Regions from separate parts of the Homo sapiens genome. Here region 1 is linked to region 2. The links come from fine-mapping of genetic effects on gene expression. A gene starts in region 2. The other region holds a variant in brackets. All regions are shown on one strand. Distances are from middle to middle.

The links.
Region 1: its variant is fine-mapped to the expression of TSPOAP1-AS1 in whole blood (INTERVAL, PIP above 0.99).

The regions. Positions count from the first base shown.
Region 1 is chr17:58,309,088-58,318,629 of GRCh38, forward strand. It overlaps TSPOAP1 (TSPO associated protein 1), which reads right to left. Exons shown (of 32, transcript NM_004758.4): 14 at 9,193-9,365; 15 at 7,338-7,453; 16 at 6,936-7,045; 17 at 2,805-3,635; 18 at 2,484-2,635; 19 at 1,749-2,126; 20 at 1,425-1,664; 21 at 880-1,071; 22 at 1-293. Among named protein-coding and RNA genes, the nearest start is that of TSPOAP1-AS1, 12 kb to the right of the region's middle. RefSeq lists enhancers at 448-1,147, 3,049-3,667. The variant C/CA (reference allele first, on the strand shown) is at 4,520.
Region 2 is chr17:58,320,763-58,330,304 of GRCh38, forward strand. TSPOAP1-AS1 (TSPOAP1, SUPT4H1 and RNF43 antisense RNA 1) reads left to right here and starts at 4,688. Exons shown (of 5, transcript NR_038410.1): 1 at 4,688-4,966; 2 at 7,288-7,359. It overlaps TSPOAP1 (TSPO associated protein 1), which reads right to left and starts at 8,033. Exons shown (of 32, transcript NM_004758.4): 1 at 6,826-8,033; 2 at 5,921-6,028; 3 at 5,531-5,659; 4 at 4,772-4,951; 5 at 4,049-4,240; 6 at 2,706-2,783; 7 at 2,536-2,619; 8 at 2,188-2,277; 9 at 1,892-2,014; 10 at 1,546-1,650. The coding sequence starts at 7,158. RefSeq lists silencers at 3,586-3,835, 3,956-4,025, 4,066-4,155, 6,416-6,475, 7,086-7,195 and enhancers at 4,293-4,841, 6,876-7,035, 7,906-7,975, 8,506-8,675, 8,776-8,855.

The DNA.
Region 1 (9,542 bases), 12 kb before region 2:
TCTTCCAGGCAGTCTCCAGCCCTGGAGGACTCAGGAGACAAGGGACACTGGCCAGGTCTTCGGGGCTGACCACTGTCACAGCCCAGCCCCAGCAATGCAGGTTCAGGCGGGCCAGGGTCTCGGGAAGAACAGCCTGCCCCTGACTTCTCCTCCTCCTCGTCCTCCTCTTCCTCTTCCTCCTCCTCCGGGATGCTAAAGAGCTTCTTGCTACAGAACTGCTGGAGGGGCAGCTCCAGGATCTGCTCCAAGATCTCCTCATCGCTGTCAGTCTCACAAAAGGGGTCGGGCTGGGACTGGTGGAGGTGGGGAGGTGGGAGTAGAACACAGCAGGGAAGAGAGATGCGTGGGGAAGAGGAGAGCGAGCTGCGATCTTTGCCCTCAAACGAAGGCAGGGGTTACGGACAACCCCACAGCCCTCCCACGGCTTCCTCCGAGAGGAGAGAACCAGAGGGACGGTGGCTGGCCCAAATTCACACACATATCCAGTGAGAGCCAAAGGAAGAATTAGGGAACACACTCTAGGAACCATCACCAGCCCCTGTGGGACAGGAGCATTGAGGAGCAGGCCTCCCCATCCCCTCCCCAGAAGCTACCAGCACAAGGATCTTAGGTGGCACCGGCCTCCCCTGGCCAGGGCGCTGTATCTGGTGGGCTGGAGGGAGAGAAGGTACAGAAATGAACTCCTCCCCTTCCCCTTTCTTTCCAGGAGGGCAGGGGCCAATCCTGGGGCACTTCCTATCTTCTGCTTAGGACAGGGCCCAGGCCACAGACCTAGAATGTTTCTGGCACTCAGTGGTGGTCAGAGCACCTGCTGACACACAGTGGGGAGGCCCCGGAGTTTGAGGCCTGGGGCCCAACAGCCCATCCCTACCCCGTTACCTTGGCCCCATTCTCCCTGATGCTGTTGCCAGCAACCTGCTTCTGGAAGGAGCAAGTCCTGGAACCCAGCTCCTCTTCCTCCTCCTCCTCCTCCTCTTCCTCTTCCTCCTGGATGTCTGACAGGTCTGAGTTGCGGCCGTGGTCCACGAGGGAGTTCACCAGATGAACCCCAAGCTCTGCTGTGTCCTCCTTCTGCAAGAAGTGAGGCAAGGCAGGAGAGATAAGGACAGTGAGGGGGCACAGGGGGTTCCAGGCAGGGTCAGCCCCAGCCACAGTAACAAGGGTCCTTTGGCAGAGGGAGAAAGAGCCATGTCCTAAATGGGGGAGGCACACCATGGCTCAGGGGCAGGGTGGGAGAAGGGAGATGGGAGCCACATGGGACAGAGAAATCCTAGAAGAAAAACAGACACATAGCACAGCCAAAGGTGTGAGAGCAGGACCAGAGCAGAGGACAGGCAGAGAGGGCAACTGGATTTGCGCTGGCAAAAGGTAGGGAGACAGGCCTCAATTCTCTGAAGTGACACAGTGTGTCCCCAAACCCCTACCTCAGCCCTGGGCCTCAGCCCAGACCCTGGGTCTCCTCCTTGGCACATCTCGGTATTTGGCGCCTGCTGGGCCCGTGCTCCCTGGGTGGAGCTGGAGGCCGGACAGGCCTCTCCTGCAGTCCACTCGGCCTCCTGCTTGGCCAGTGAGGGAGCTGCGGGGCCAGGGTCCTTCTCACCCAGGGTAGATGTGCTGGCTGTCCTCTCCTCTGAGGTGCCCAGCACTGCTGCCCCAGCCTCCTCCTGGAACAGAGAGCACTGAGGAAGGACCCAAGCCCAGGTCCCTCTGCCAGCCTGCACCTGCTCCCCTCTCCCCAGACAGGGTACCTGGGAGCAAGGTGCTGGAGGGTCCTCGTGGGACCCTTTTGCCATCTCTCTGGAAGGGCTTGCAGGGGGTGCTCCTGGAGGCTCTTGAGTTCCAAGGGGAGCAGGGTGCTGGAGAGGAGAGCTGGGGTCTCCAGGCCCTGGGGAGGCTGAAGCAAGGGGCGCTCTGGCCTCTGGGCTTGGGTGCGGTGAGGGGCAGGAGACTCGGGCTGGCAGGCTGGCCGGAGCCAGGGCGGGAGTGATAGGAGCCGGGATGGAGTCCGCCGACTCCCCGTGGGGCGACATGGTGCGCACGACCACCTCACGACACACCTGCAGCAGCTGCAGCTGGGACAACTCCACCAGTACACTGCCTGCCGTGGGTGAGGCCACCTCCATGATCTGCAGGGTGGAGGGGGCACAGGATGGGAAGCAGAGGCTGAGACAGCCAAGCGTGAGGATGCACTGACAGCAGTGGCAGCTAACTGACAGCAGTGGCAGCTAGCATTACGCCAGGTACTGTGCTAAGCCCTCTGCATGGCCTATCTCATTTCATCCTCCTGGCCATATGGCTTCAGTGATGGAACAGTTCTAAAATCTGTCATGTGCTGCCAAAGCCCATGCTCTTAACCCATCTGCCTCATGGTACCCAAATGCCAGGGGCTGGGCATCTCCGTGCCAAGCCAGAGAGCCTAGACCTCTGAGCATAGCAAGAAGGGACCCACCCCCACTCCCAGGGTACAGTGGGCAGGGCTATACCTTCTGCCCATCAGCGTAGATGGCATAGCCTGTGACCCGGACACCGTTGGATGTGCCAGCAGCATCGATGGTGACTGGGAGCCAACTGATGATCAAGATCCCAGGGGAGGGCCCAGGCTCGATCTGCACATCCAGAGGGGCATCAGGTGGGCCTGGGGGCAGGGGGGCACAAGACCCAGTGATGCAGGACGCTCCCCATCAGAGATACCTGCCCAATTTGCTATTTCCCTGATAACGCAAATAAGATCAGGGTCCCCTTCTTCCGTCACCCATGGCCTGGCCTCCTGGGTGTTCTGGACAACAGGGCCCAAGCCCACATACCTGCTGGGAGTGTGGTGAACTGCAGGGTGGCAGCCCGCTGCTCCAGCCTCTCCCAGCCTGGTTCCCAGGGCCCTTGGGGTGGGAGCTGAGCCTCCACTTGGGCCTGATAGGGTGTGCCAGGCCGTAAGTGGCAGAAGGTGGCCCAGTAGGTACTGGGGCTGGCAGGTGGGCACTCTTCCCCATTGAGGTAGATGGCATGGGCCAAGTTGCTATTGCCGGGCACCCAGGTGATCTCAGCAGATGTGGCTGTCAACCGATGGACCCGCAGCTGGCTGGGCACCACTCCGGCCCGGGCACCCACCGCCAAGCAACAGCGCAGTGGGTCAGAGCTGCCCCGGCTAGTCAGGGCCTGGACAGAAATGTGAAGGGGCCCGGCCCACAGGTCCAGGTTCTCCAGCACGGCCTTGGGTGGCGCCCCAGGCCCCAGGGCCTGTCGCAGCTCCCCATTCACACAGATATGGAAGCCGTGTAGCTCCACTTGCTCAGGAGGCGGCTCCCAGGCCAGCACCACGCTGTGGGCCAGCTGCTTGAGGACCACCAGACGGCGGGGGTAAGGCACGGCAGGAGGCTCGCCCAGGCCCTCCGGTGATGGGCTCAGACTGAGCTCGTCCCCTGCATCCTCCTCCTCAGGTCTGGGCTGGCTCCTTCCCACACTGCTTTGGCCCCCGCTACTGCTGCCACCCCCACCTACACTCAGGAAACTGAGTTCAGGGCCTGAGCTGTGGGACAAATCGGCCAGCTCTGGAGGGAGGGAGGTCAGGAGGTCATCATCCGACACACGCTCTACAAAATTGGAAGGGACCAGGCCCCTTCGGCCATCCATGAGCTCTCCTGGCAGGAGGAGGACAGGAAGGGGCAGGGCAGGGGAAGACAGAGAGGAGATAAAGAAAAAACGGTATAATAAATGCATTTTAGCAACTGCTAGTGGGTGATCTTCAGCATTTGATTCAAATCAACATTTAACTGTCAATTCTTTTAAAAGACAAGAGCAGTAAAGATCTGGATTAGAGATAGGTCTGATAATAGTATTTTGGTTCTATAGGACAGTGCTTCTTCAATTTTAACTTGCATATGAATCACCTACAGATTTGTTAAAATGCAGATTCTAACTCGGTTGGGTCTGGATGGGGCTGAGATTCTGTGATTCTAATAAGCCACCAGGTGACACTCAAGCTGCAAGGATGGAGGAGAATATCATGTTCTAAGTAAGCATGTTGAGTATTTCAAGGTAAAATATCATAATGCTTTTAAAATCATGTTTAACCTACATATAAAGCAAATATGCCAAAGTTTTAACAATTGTTGAATCTAGGTGCTGGCTATATAAATATTCAAATATATTCTGTACATTTGAAAACTTTTGTGTTAAAAATTGCAATAATAATTTCATAATTTCATATTAAAGTTTTAAAAAATAAGCAGGTCAGGATAAGAAAACTGGCCAGGCATGGTGGCTTATGCCTGTAATCCCAGCACTTCAGGAGGATGAGGCAGGCAGATCGCTTGAGCCCAGGAGTTTGTGACCAATCTGGGCAACATGGCAAAACCCAATCTCTACAAAAAATGCAAAAATTAGCTGGGAGTGGTTGCACGCCTGCAGTTGCAGCTACTCAGGAGCCTGAGGTGGAAGGATTGCTTGAGCCCGGGAGGCAGAAGCTAGAAGTCATAATCGCGCCACTGCACTCCAGCCTGGGCGACAGAGCAAGATGCTGTAT[C/CA]AAAAAAAAAAAAAAAAAAATTCTGCTGGTTGGGTTTTACCTGGGCCTGAGGAATAGGGGCCAGGGTGCCCCTCAACTTCTCTTTGTGAACAGCAGACATCCACAGAGGGAGAGAGAGACAACCAACTCAGCAGGGTAAAGGAGGAATCTTTAGAGACAAATGAAGTAAGTGCTAGTGAAATAGTCACTTGTAAGTTCTAGAAGGATCAGGAGCCCCAGCAGGCCTGTGTCTAGCAGCATGATTGACAGCAGTCAATCCAGGCAACCACCAATGGTTATGTTTTGTTACCTGCATCAGTTCTCCTGAAGACTTGACAAGAGAGTATTTTAAAACATTTGCTGTTGTTTGATTGAGGGATGTCAAGGAAGCTGGGCACCCAGCATGTAATGTCACGGTCAATTTAAAGAAGAAAAAAAGGTCTCAGGAAACAGACAGCTGGTAGCTGGTGTGCTTTATTGAGAGGAAGGGGGAGCACGAGCCAGGGCTTAGGGGAGAGGGGTGAGTGTAGGCAGGTCTGAGCTGCAGGGGGGCCTGGAGTTTCCCCCAACAGTCATCTGTGCCCCTCACCTCCACCCTCTCTCTCTCTGCCTATGCTAGGCAAAAAAAAAGTAAGGAACTTGAAGAAACAAGAGGGACTGTCAATAAATTCACTGATATAATAAGCACTGTAGAGGGTTGAATGGTGGCCGCCCAAAAACATGTCCATGTTCTAATCCCCAGAACTTGTGAACATGACCTTATTTGGAAAAAGCGTCTTTGCAGATGTAATTAAGTTAAGGATCTTGAGATGAGATCATCCTAGATTATCCGGGTGGGTCCTAAATCTAATGACAAGTGTTTTTATAAGAGACATGCAGAGGAGAAACACTAAGAGGAGGAGGCAATGGTGACCACAGATAGAGACTGGAGTGAGGTGGCCATAAGCCAAGGAACAACTGGAGCCACCGTAAGCTAAAAGAGACAAGGAACGGAACCTCCCCTAGAGCCCCCAAGGGGATGCAGTTCTGCCAATACTTTGATTTCAGACTTCTGGCCTCCAGAAGAGGCCAGTGAGAGAATAAATGTCTATTGTTTCAAGCCACTCTATGGTAATTGCTCCTGCAGCCCTAGGAAACGATCATAAGCACCAGCACTGTGGAGTGGGAGACAAAGGCAGGAGTCTTCACACTAAGAGGATCTCCAGCCTGCAGGGCTGAAGCTGGAGCCTGGGCCGGAGTCAGGCACATGCTCCAGAAGCCCATGCAGCTGAGAACAGCCTAGGTGGCCCAGACATAGACGAAGCAGTCCTTTAGCTAAGGTTGGACAGGGAATACGGCATCTTGCCCCCGGTGGCATTTACATCTATCCCAATTTATCCCAGATCGCAGAGTTCAAATTCTAGTCATTTGTGGTTAGTTAATACTTATGCCTTTGCTGCCCCCTCCAAAAATAAAGTGTTTGGGTTTTGGTTTTTGATTTGGGTGGGGTTTTTTTTTCTTCATTTATAAAGTATTATTTTCCTGAAAGCTTTTTAATTCTGATCTTCATAATCTACCCCTGTAGGGAGTTTAACTGTTTAGGCCACAAAGCCAGGTACCATGGGTCTCAGCAGCTCCTCAAGTAACAGGCAGAGGACCCAGGGAAAAGAAACTGAGCAGGCTCCCAAGCTTCCAGGGTTACAGATTCAGAGCTAAGCCTGTTCCTAAATCTCTACACACAGCTGCGGCTCTCGCCCTGCCCTGTCCATGCCCCATCCAATTCTCTACACAGTGCCATCCTCTCTGCTGCTGATGGACTCAGCCTGGTGGTACCCAGGCCAGAGCCACCCTGAGAGAGTCTCCCAAGGCCATGTCTTCCGCAGGCCCATAGTGCCCAGTCTCAATGAGGCATCTGCCTTGAGTTGCCTGATCAGCCCTCTGACTCCCCACAGGAGCTGCAGAACCTCCCTGAAGCAGACACCCTGCCTGGGCCCTGACAGCTGCTAACCGCTTGAGAACACCTTCCCCTGGGATCTTTACCCTGATTCCTCCTTCGCATACCTGACTGGAGTCCAGCATCAAATCTGTGCTGCATACCTGACCTCAGGTGTCACTACTGTGAAACACTGCCACGCCCTGACTATCCACACAAAAATGAATCTAGCCAAAATCTCCTGTGACACTCTCTCCACCATCTGGACTATGCTGTCCTGTCCTGCTTGGAGCCAGACTCCCTTCTTTCTCTTTCCCCAGTGGCTACTAGGTCTCTGTATGCCTTTTAGCTGAGACCAAAAAGTTAAGGTGGGCTGAGCACGCTGGGCAGAGGGGATGGATGGATGGATGGATGGATGGATGGATGGATGGATGAATGGATGGATGGATGGATGGATATCCGTCTTTGGGAACATGGGCTCAAAGGCAGGGGAATGGACAGAATGACCCCCCACTACATTCCTACCTTCAAAAAAGCCATCCTCATCCATGTTGCCATAGATGTAGATGTACTCGCCAGCTGTCAGCGGAAGCTCTGCTTCTGGATTCTCATTGGGACCCTCAAAGGGGTTGTAGCTGTTAGGGGAGGCACAGAGGAGGAGGAGGAGAGTGACCTACACTCCACTTCCATGTCCTGTCTTCTCTCTCCCACTGCACTGAGCCTTTACGGAGACTTGGTTGTGGTTGTCCACCACCAGCAAAGCTGAGCCCTCACTGCACCCACCTTGGCCCAACTAGGTTATTAGAATAGGTCCATTGTGTCCTGTACTGCCCCCACCACTTCCAGAGGTCTCCAGCTCCACCCGGCCCCCTCCTATACCCCAAATGCTGGGGCTGGGCTAGGGGGCAGTGAGGGTGAGGGACCCACCTATAACGTGCTAGGAAGACCTGGATCCTGGCTCCTCCCCGGCTGCCCTCTGGCGCAGCTGGGAGCAGGGAGACACTGTCTGCCTCCAGCTCCTCTACCTCACTGGCTGTGTCCACCTGGGGGCAAACAGAAAGGGCTGGTTTCTCTTCAGGGCCTGGGGCCAAGCGCCAAGCAGGCAGGTTTCCAGGCTGAGCCAGAGGACCTATTGCTTTAAGGAGGGAAAATGAGCACATACATGCTGCACAGGAGCAGTGGCAAGGACCCCCTGATGCTCTCTAAATTAGTGCCTGAGAGAGCAGGTCCTGGCAGAGCCCAGCTGCCCTGGGCAGGGGCAGTGGGGATAACCCAGACCCCTCCCTGAGCCTCTACTGCACCCGCCAGGAAATAAAGCCACTTCCCTCATCTCAGAGGGGCCCAGGCCATGCTGGTGTGGGGAGTGGGTGTCAACAGAAGTTTGGTTTGGTTCCTTAAGGTAAAAACTCAGCAAAGTTGCCAGGTGCAGTGGCTCGCGCCTATAATTCCAGCACTTTGAGAGGCTGAGGAGGGCAGATTGCTTGAGCCAGGAGTTTGAGACCAGCGTGAGAAGCATAACAAAACCCCATCTCTACTAAAAATACAAAAATTAGCTGGGTGTGGTGGTGCATGCCTGTGGTCCCAGCTACTTGGGAGGCGGAGGTAGGAGGATTGCTTGAGCCCAGGAGGCAGAGGTTGCAGTGAGCTGAGATTGCGCCACTGCACTGCAGCCTGGGGGATAGAGCGAGGCCCTGTCTAAAAACAAACAAACAAACAAACAAAAACAAAGAAAAAAGAAACCCCTCAGCAAAGCACCCCAACTGTAAATCGCTGGAAGCAAGGAGGCAGAAAGGAGGCAGAAGGAGCTTGAGGGGTCCCTGCTTCTAGCCGAGTGACAGTGTGTCTGCTGTTCAGCTCTGGAACTCAGAACTTCCCGTCTACTTGCCCGGCCCACAGCCCAGGGCACCGCAACCTCAGGGCACCCCAATTCTCTGACCCTTGTTGAGGTTGCTGGGGTAGCCTGGGGAACAGGCTGTCTTCTCTTCTCTGCCAATGCCTGGGAGAAGGGGACCAAGTGGGCAACCTCTCCACAACCACATCCAAAGCTGGCACCATCCTTCTATCCCACGAGGGGGCAATAGAGGCCCAGGGCTTCGTTCTACCACTTTCTGAATGTTTGGCTCTCAGAGCTGCTTCTGACCTGCCTCCTCCACCTTCTGGGGTTTGTGGGTAGAAAGAAGGATGAGTTGACGACCAGAGCTATGAGTGATGCCCAGGAGCTTAGTAATAATAACAGCTGCCCCGTGTTGAGCACACATCCTGTGTGCCCCACACTGAGACAGGCAGGTTCCGTATTCATTTAACTCTCACAACAACCTTAGAAGGCAGGTTTTATTAGCTCCAAGATTCAGATAAGGAAACAGAAGCCCAGAAAGGCTCAGTGACTTGCCTAAGGCAAAGCTGGGATTTGAATCCTGGAACATGTGCTTTCTCATACAACCACCTGCTTTCACTACAGATGCTCTTAGGAACAGTCTCATTATGCAGATCCTGGTGCCCAAGTGTCTCCTCCATCCAGCCCAGCACTCCAGAGCCTCCCTGGGCCTCCCAGGGGTGGGCTGGGGTGGCCCCAGGTGGGGCTTGCAGGCAGGCAGTGGAGGGCAGGAAGGGCTCCACCTGAGCGCCTCGCCCACAGGAGGAATCCACAGGCCTCCCACCTCCCAACTTGGGACCCCAGAAGTTGCCACCCAACTCCTGGGGACCCCAGAAGAGGTCAGGGCCACCTGCCCTGCACCCTTCCCCAAGCCAAAGCCAGAACTTCAGGCCCCACCCCAGCAATTACCTCAGGTGTAGGGCATGACTTGGGGCTGTTGTGGATGGACTCGGAGTGGGAGGAGTTGGAGAGAGACTCTGCCTTCTTGGCTGTCCTTCGAGGGACCCCAGTGAGAGTGGCAGGGGCAGGCTCGGAAGACTTTGGGGTGCAGCGCCCAGGGGAGCCCGGCGGGAGGTCAAGGTCTAAAGAGAAGATGGCACGTGGGCTTGGGGTCTGTGGCCTGAGGAGGGACCAGGAGATAGGGTGGTGCTTCTTGGATATGGGGACCAGGCCCTCCATAGCCGGGCTTCCTTACAAAAAGGGAAATATTTAGAGAGAAACTTACTAAATAGAGGTATAGCTGATTTACAAATACTATT
Region 2 (9,542 bases):
CCTGAACACCCACCCTGAACCATACCTTAGACCAGAAGGCAAAGGGGACCAGGAGAAGCGTGGCTGAGTCAGCTCCCCTCTTTCCTGAGCAACCATCCTCCCAGTTTCCCCCCTACCTCTCTGGATGCTCCTTCTCAGCCTCTTTTGCCTGCTCCCTGTCCCCCATTTTGAATGTTAGGGTTACCCTGGACCCAGTGCTGGGCCCAGTTTATATTGTCTACTCTCTTCCTAGGGCTCCCATCTACTCATACAACTAAACACACTGGTGGCTCCAAATATCTCCAAGACCAACTTACCCATAACCCCAGGCTCATGTATCCAAGTGCCTGTGGACAGCTCCCCTTGAATGTTTAACGCGCAGCTCAGACATGGCCCAAATGGAACTCAGCACTCGGGATGACCTACCTCTCAGATCTGCTGCCCCTTCATCCTTCACCTCACGGAGTATGAAGAGCCCCACCCTCCACCAAGGTTTATACAGCAAATGGCTGTCAGAGAAGGGATTCAACTGGAATCCCACGGGGATCCTTGTCAATTCTTTTTTTTTTTTTTTGAGATGGAGTCTCGCTCTGTCGCCCAGGCTGGAGTGCAATGGTACGATCTCAGCTCACTGCAAGCTCTGCCTCCCGGGTTCAAACAATTCTCCTGCCTCAGCCTCCTGAGTAGCTGGGACTACAGGGGCCCGCCACCATGTCAGGTTAATTTTTGTATTTTTGGTAGAGACGGGGATTCACCATATTGGCCAGGCTGGCCTCGAACTCCTGACCTCAACTGATCCACCCACCTTGGCCTCCCAAAGTGCTGGGATGACAGGCATGAGCCACCATGCCCGGCCAGAACCTTGTCAGTTCTATCTCTAAAACATAACTCAAACCCAGGCACTTGTCTCCCGTTCCACTGCATGCATCTCTGTCCAGACAGCCACCATCTCCCTCCCAGGCCACCGCCCAGGCCCTGCTCCACGCCTGCTCCCACAGTCCACCCTCCATAATACCAGCCATGTGATCCTGTAAAATTATGACTCAGATCATGTCACTCCCCCACTTAGGATCTTTCAGGAGCTTCTATCTACTCACAGAGCAAAATACCCAAACTCTTCCCATGGCCGTTAAGGCCCGACAGGATCGGGTTCTTGTCTACTCCCACCACGCTGCCCATCCCTTGCTGTATTCTAGCCACATTGGTCTCAGGCTTCTTCAGCTCTTCCCTGCCACAGAGCATGTGCATGTCTACACCTCCTGGCTGGCAAGGTCAATTGTCACCTCCTCAGGGAGGCCTTCCCTGATGACCTCTAAAGTGGCTCCTCACCCCATCCCAGTCACTTTGTCACATCACCCTGTTCTTCTCCACCACTGTGCTCATCAGTGTCTGAAATCAGCTCACTCCTGGATGCTAATTTGCTGACTGCTCAGGGACCTGGTCTTTGTTCCCCACAGTCTCCCCGACGCCTAGCACAGTGCCGGGCACACAGTAAATGCTTGTGGAATGAGTGAGTGGCAAAGCTGGTGTCCAGCAGCCTGCCAGCTTCCCTCACTGCCGCCCCACCTGCTGCAGTCTCCGGACCTCCTCCTGCTTCTCCCGTAGGCTGAGCCGAGCCTGTTCATGCTCCACCTCCAGCTGCTGCCGCCGCTGGGCCACCTCCCGCATGTGCTGAAACACAAGATCTGAGTCAAGGCCAGAGCCCCTACTTGGCCATTTCTAGAGAAGATCTAAGATGAGGAAGCCTCAAACACCATTTGCTCCAGATTCCTCTATTACAAAGGAAACTGAGCCTGGAGCAGCTCCAGGCCCAGGCCTCAGAGCTAGTGCCCCTCACTAAGAATATTCTGCTGTCCCACTTGCTCCCCATGCCAGGGCCCAGCACCCTCTCCCACCTGCACCATCTCCTCACCTTCAGCACTTGCTCCAGGCTCTCCAGCTTGCTCTGCAGGCCCTGGCTCTTGCGAAGGGCTGAGTCCCTCTCCTGTGTCACCCCCAGGAGCTGGCCCCTCAGCTCCGCATTCTCCCACTCCACCTGGCGAGGGGGCAGTGACAGGGAGTTGGGTGGGTGAGCCTTGACCCACCAGCACCCTCACAGGGGGAACAGTACCCTACCCCTGCTCAGGGGTGGAGGAGAAAGCCCCTTGGCTGGGGACCGGGGCAGTGGTGGGAGCACAGGTCTCCACAGCACCTGGGCGGAAGTGGTACCTGCTCCTTCTCTGTGGCTCTCCCACTGAGCCGGGAGTTCTCCTCCACCAGGCGGGCATTCTCATTCTGCGCTTGTCTCAGCTGCAGTTCCTGAGCGGGCAGAGGAGCTCTCAGGAGGGAGCCCAGCACCCACATTCCCCCTCTCCCCACACAGAGGACCCTGCCCTCCTCCCAGGCAAGGCCTTCCTCCCCTGCTGGAACCTGCACCAGCCAGGAAAGGAAAGGAGCAGGAGGGAAAATGTGTTCTTGAGGGCAGCAGGGGTGGGAGCAGAGCTGAGAGGGAGCCCACCACCTGGCTGGCCGGGGTGAAGGGAGGAGCTGGCCTCTGGGTTGCCCTCAAGAGCTCACCAGCTCCTCACATCGCCTCTGCTTTTTCCGGGCTTCCTGCTCCAGGCTCTCGCATTTCTTCCGCTTCTTGCTGAGCTCCGATTCCTGAGGGGTCAGAACCAAGTGCTCCTCATGAGGGAAGGTACATCTGCCCACAGCAGGCTGCCTCCAGCCCTTGACCTAGGACTTACCAGCTGCTGCACCCTCTGCTCTTTCTCTGGCTCCCCTAGAATCACGGGTAGGTTGTCCGCATCCTCCTGGGGCGTGGCCTGGAAATGCCCAGGGGCAAGGGGCTGGCACCTGAGAACAGGGCCCCAGGGCAGCCTGCCCCAGCCCAGCCTGCCCAGAGCAGGTTCCCACCCCATCATTCAGCCAGCAAGAGATCCCTGCCTAGCAAGAGCAAAGAGGGGTACTGTCTGCCCACCCACCTCCCATTGTCTCCAGCTGATGTGTAAGTACAAAGGCTGCACCCCTGTGTCCTGGAGCCATAAGTGCTTTGAGATCCTGGGACCCACGTGTGCCCTGGGAGATGGGTCCTTTATCCAGGCCAAAGCTTTCCCTTTTTAGCTTCCAGCAGCAGCCCTGCTCTGCACTCAATAACTGTCCTGGGTGTCCTTCAGCGACTGGCAGAGAACTAGGAGGCTGCCTGGGCCCCCGGGGATGTGGTGTTCCCCAAGATAGGGGTTCTGTATCATCCAAATCTGGGCTTGGCCTAGAGCAGCGCAAGTCCAGCCAGACCCTTCTCCTGGCTTCCCCCAAGCCCACCCTACCACACCTTCCGATTATCCGTGCAAACTTTGGGGGAGGACAGGTCTTGATGGGAGGGTGCATCTCCCTTCCAGGGCCAGCCAGGGAGACAAAATCTGAGCAAGAAGCCTCCCCCCACCCGGAGGTCTTGGTCACTATCAGATCACTGCCTGGTCTCTCCTCCCAGCCCTCTTCCCAGAAGGAGGAGGACCTACTTGCTGCCTACCTAGGATGATGGCGAGAAGCCAGACCCTTAAGTTCTGGGGGTCCTAAGCGGGTCCCTGGCCCTCGAGACAGGGGCTGCCTAAGCCCCCCGCTCAGTGAGGGTTGCCTGTACCTGGAGCCGGGGCGGACGCACCGCCGCCCCCGGGTAGCTGGGGCCAGGCCTGGCCAGCCAGGCGGGCGCTGACGGGGGCGTCCCCGCTCTACGGCGGCGGCGGGAGGAGGCGGCGCGGGCTGGGCCCCGGGCGGCTGCCAGGACAACCAGGGATTTGCGGCCGGGCCGTACCACTGGCAGCGCGGCAGGGGCGGCCGGCCAGGCCCCGCTGGGCGCAGGCCTATGGAGGGCGGAACCCTGGAGCCCCCAGGGGAGGGCACGGCGCAGGTACGAGCACGGGAGGCTTGGAGGTGGACCCTGCCCAGGACGGGAAAGCTCCCCAGCCCCTGGGAGTGCGCACACCACCACTGAGTCCTTGGGGTTCTGAGCACGGTGCAGGGGAGATCCCGGTGGTCGTTCCCCCCACCCATCTGCACGCACCCACACACCTGCCCTTGCGCCGGCGCTCACCTCTCCCGGGGCCCCGGGAGCAGGCGCCCCTGCTCTGGCCTGGAGAGCAGGGCCCGGGGGCCAGGACGGCGGGAGCGGGAGCGTCTCCCGCTGGTTGCGCAGCGCGATCTGCCTCTGCAGCCGCAGCACCTCCCGCTGGGACTCGCGCAGCAGCCGATCGAAGTCCCGCACGTGGAGCCACTGGGGACCCTCCTGAGGTTGGGGGACAGGGACAGGGAGGGGACTCAGGCCTAATCCTTGCCCGCCCCATGCCATCCCCTGCAGAGCCCTTCGCCTTGCTGGAGGGGCTCCGATGCGCGAGACTGTGCACACCCTCCCATGGGTACATGCCTGGTTACATGTGCATGCGTATGTGGCCACATGCTCCCGCGAGCCCCTATGCGGTCATTCTCAGTAACTTATTTCTTGGGTGCTCTCAATGTGCCCAGCACTGTGCTAAATACCTTGTGAACATCCCTTCACACAGGGGATGTGTGGATGCATACAGCCAGACCCACCGGCAAACAGCCTCAAGCCTGGAGCACAGAAATGCCCAGGTCTGGGACTCATGGCTCCACCCCCTTCTCCCCTCTCCCACCTGGGCCGTTGCCAGGGGAACCTACTCCCAGCAACCTCCACCCTCCCTTTCATTTGCGTCTCATTAACATCTTGTCTGCATCCCACAACAGGCAGATGGCCCTGTGCAGGGCTGAGCTGGAAGAGGTGACCAGGGCCTCCTCGCACCTTGCCCACCAGAGTGAGCCTGGCCTGCAGCTCCCTGCACTCCCGCTGCAAGGCAGCAATCTGCTTGTCCTTGGCCAGCAGTGCACTGGCTGTCTCACTGAGGTCCCGGGCTCGCTGGCGGGCTAGGGCCTTCCGACACAACTCCAAGCTGGTCCCCGGCCGGGGCAAGGGGGCACTCACCTAGCCAGAGGAGGGGTAAGGCCAATGGTCACCTGAGGGCTGGGGCACTTCTCCCACTCCTCATCTCCTCCCAAAGGAGGAGTTAGCATGAAAACCTAGGGGGGTAGCCACCTGCTTCCACCTTGACTGGGGTCTCAGAAAACCAGCAGCCTCACTCTACCCCATCCCAGCAGTTGGAAAGGATTAACTCTACATCTGAGTTTAGGATCAAAGGATGCTGCTAATTTGGGGCTGCCACTGTGATGGGTCTCATCCCTGCCCCCACTCCAGCTCTATACCCTGAGATGAGCTCAGCAGAAGGCTGCCGCCAGCACCAGCACGTGGTAATCCAGAATCCTGCTCCCTGCCTGCTCAGGAACCTCCCCATCCAGCTCTTCTCTGCCCCCTGCAGCTCCAGAAACCTTTGGCCTCCTTGCCTGGCCAGCCTCTGCCCTTCCTGCACCTTAGCCCCTAGATTCTTGCTTTCCTAGGTGCTGAGCTGAGACCGTGACTCCCAAGCTTCAGACAGCCCTCAGGCCCAGCCCTGGCTCCCCTCTTCCTTGGTCACCCAGCCTCCGCCCAGCAGCCTCCTTTCCTCACCACCCTCAGGTTCGTTTCCTGCAGCTTTCGGGCCCTCTCCTCCAGGCGCTTGGCAATGACCGCCAGCTCGGCGTTCTTCCTCTTCAGCCTCCGCACCTTCTCTTCTGTCTCAGGGAAGCTGCTCTTCCTCTGACAAGGGGTCAGGCAGAATTGGGGCATGTAGGGAGCACCCCACAGACCCAGTCCTAACAGCCCAAGTCTTGGGCTAGAGCCCTAGGCTCACAGTGGGGTCCTTGGCAACTCTAGGCAGGGGTTCACCCTCTCTGGGTCTCAGGATTTTGTCACCTCCATTGAGCCCCCACTTGGAAAGATGTTCATGGGGTGAGGAGGGCACTGAGGCAGAGGGCCTGGCTCCAGCCAGAACGCAGCACCCCAGTCTCCAAGCCTCACCAGCATCTGGTTTTCCTCCTTAAGGATGGCACAGCGCTGCCGCAGCTCCCCCAGGGCCCTCAGCAGCTCCAGATTGGGCCTGTCCCCAAAGCTCATATTCAGCTTGGCCTGGCATGGGAAAGGACCGAGGACAGCACCTCAGAAACCCACGTCACCCAGCCAGAGCCTTCCCTGTGGAAGCATCCACCATCCATGGTCCAAGGAGACATGGAGATGAAACGGTTTCCCCTATGTCCCAGGCCTTCAGAGAGGAGCAGAGGAGGCCTAGGAGAAGGAACTGTCCAGTCCTCCCTGTCCACATAGACACCCCCAAACCTGGCACCCTCCTGCTCCTCCCTGATCCTTCCCATTCCTACCCATCTTCTCCTCCAGGGACATGCGAGCTCGAGCTCCCACTCCCATCCCTCCAGACTCCCCTGCCCTCCCCCAAAGTCCTGTTCCTTCCCTCTTCTACAGGAGCCTGCTCACACCCACCCCAACCCTGCCTCAGCCCAGCACCAAGCCCCCTCCCCTCAATCTACTTCCTCTGCACTGATTCTCTGTGCACCTCCACACTCCCCCTGTATCCCCCAGCCCCTAAGGACAGACAGACTCATGGAAGAAGAGACACAGACAGACACACTGTCAGGAGGAGGCACAGAGAGGGACGGGGCAGCAGCAGGGCCAGATCTAGACAGACAGGCAAAGAGGGTCAGAAGGACAGACAAATGACGAAAGAAATGGAGCCCCTCAGATTTCTGCTCGATGAAGAGAGGACAGATAGCCACAGAGATGGACCCACAGACAGGCCAAGAGAGGACAGGTGGGCATTGGGGATGCATACCTCGCCTCACCTCCTGGCCAGGCTGGAGGACATGGTGAGAGACCCCCACCTTGCAGACCCCAGCCCTCCACAGATCCCTTACCTTCAGGAAAGCCTCCACTTCCTCATCCTCTGGCCTCTGGCAGGCGGGTCCAGAGCTGGATGCTTGCTGGCCCAGGCTGGGCAGACAAGCCTCTGCTCCTTCAGGGTCAGTTCCCCCCACGGGCCTGGAGCTCCCGTCTCCTTTGGGCTTGGAACTCTCCTCAGACCTCAGTTCTTGAAGCTGCAGAGCTGCCGGAGGAGTATCAGCGATGCTTGGGGCTGCACTGCTAGGTTCACCCCCTCGACCTGGAGTCCAGCTATGCCAGGTGGGCAGTGCCCATGGCTCCATGGCTCCAGGGTCCCCAGGCCGTGGGAGGGTTGTCAGTTGCTCCATGGTACTGCCAAGGGGCCCCAGAACCCGGGCCGGGGGACATCACCCAGCCAGGTGGGGGGACTGGCGAGGGTCATGCCAGGCCAGCCCCTCTCCCCTCTGAGCTCTTGCTTCACCGACGCTCCATCCAAGGTTGGCTGAGCTCTTCCCCACCCACAAAGGAGGCTGCAGAAGGCGCCAGGGCTGCTGGAGCTGGAGCCAGGGGTATGTGAGCTATGTTTGCTGGTAGCTGTGTGTGTGCGCGAGTATGTGGAGGAGCGAGGGTGTCCCTGTGGGGGTAGGGAGGATGTGCAGAGGCCACCGACAGCTGCGCCTGGGTGAGGGTGCGTGTGTGTGTCTCCAGGTCTGTCCGTGCAGGTCAATGCTGTCTCATGTGTTGGGAAGATGGGTGCCCCCACTTCTGTGTGTTGAGGGGGGTGGTGCTGTGTGTCACTGTCTGCCCATTTCAGAGTTGCCAGTTGTTTGTGTGTGTGTGTGTGGGTGTCTGTATTGCAGGGCTGTGGCAGTATGTGATGCTGTCCCTGGTTGTATCTGAGTGTGTCAGTGTCGTGCAGCTGTGTGCATCGGTGTCGTTGTGTGTCTGTCAGTGTCTGTGGGTCTGGCCGTCTGTCGCAACCCCTCAGCCCGGCCAGAGGCTTCAGGAGCTGCTGGGGGTGATCCCCAGTGGTCCGCTGTGGTCCTTTATCTCCGGCTCTGCTCTCTGCTGCTGCTCTTTCGCTTGCTGGGTGGCTGGGCTGGTCCTAAGGAGGCCTGGGTCGATGGGCTGCTTGCCTCATAGTCTCAGCCCCTGCTGGCCTCTGCTCTGGGGACTGCAGGGGTCCCTTACAGTCCAGGAGCCTCGAGATGGTGGGCTCCGAGGAGGGCTGAGCCTCAGAATTGGGTGGGGGGGTGAGCCGGGAAGAGCCAGCCCTCCCCTCCTCCTCCTCCTCCTCCCCTCCCACCCACCAATAGGAAGTCGGCTGCTGGTTTCCATGGTGATGGCGCTGGACTGGTGGGCTGAACCGGCTGACAGGGTCGGGGACAGAAGGAAGAGCAGGTTTCTCACGGCATGTCAGCCCAGGGCTCCCACATGTGGCCTCCCACCCTCATCTTCACACATTCTCACACCTTCCGGAGTACAGAGGCGAGTGGGGTGCAGATGGTCCTCCCTACATCGGGTGAGACTGATAGAGACAGAACGGGGGAGGGTATGACAGAGATCCAGCCACAGAGAAGGGCAGAACTAGAAAAGATGGGACTTGAGATGAAACAAAGAGAGAGACAGAAACCAAGAGAAAGAAACCGGGAAGACAAGCAAAGAGACAGGTAGAAATAGACGGAGAATTCCTTCTGCTTCCTCCTGGCAGATTGCACTTGGGGGGCAACCTGGCTGTCCCAGGCCACCAGGGAAGCCCACATGGCCTGTTGGGTTGGCTTTGTCCCGAATTGCCTGGAAGTTCATCTTCTGTCTAGCCTTAGATCTTGTTGCTAAATAATTTGGGGGACAAGGACGTGAGAATCCCCTCAGCCAGGAGTCAGTCTATATGCAGTGGCAGGGGTCTAGACAGAGTCCCCAGAGCCAGGGGTGTTGGGAGAAGCCCCGAGAGGCAGCCCCTCTCCACTCTGAACCCGGGACTCATTAGGCAAGCCAGTTTCAGCCAAGGTCGGGGGCCCTCGTGTGGCACCCCCACAGAATAGCAGCGGTGATACTGAACCCTAGAGCCCCTGACTGTGGGCTCCACCCAGGCAAGAGCCAATGGAACTGGAGGTAGGGGGTGCATGGGGAGGAGTGGACATCTTCACTTCCCTAAAGCAGTGTGTAGGTCAACACGCACGCCACTGCATGATGTGTTGCTGTTTAGGTCAGAGTATATATGCATGCCATTATGCGCATGCGTGTGTATAGTATGCATCTATAGAATAGACATTATCTATTTCTGTATATGTGAAGGGGCCATTGTGTGTATATATGTGTGTGCTATTATGTGTCTATGAGTCACATAATAAAACGTAACAAAAACACATTGGGTGTATCTGTATGTATGTTTCTGTGTCATTGCATCTATGTTTGTTTGCCACTGTGTCTATGTGTGTGCTGTTATGTGCATGGGAGGCTATCATTGCATGAGTTTATAAATTACAACACATCATGATATATATAGATATGGATGCTACTATATGGCACAATGTAGTAATTGATTACACAATATATGACATGCTCATATCGTCATGTAAATATGCATAATGACATGGTTTGATTTATATATATATATCACCATGTATCTATGTATTCTATATTTATCATGATATATGAACATGTCTCTATCTATGTATGTGTATGGAGCCACCGTGTTTATTATGCAAATGTCACTGTATGTGTGTGCTCTTCTATGTGTAAGACACGCCCT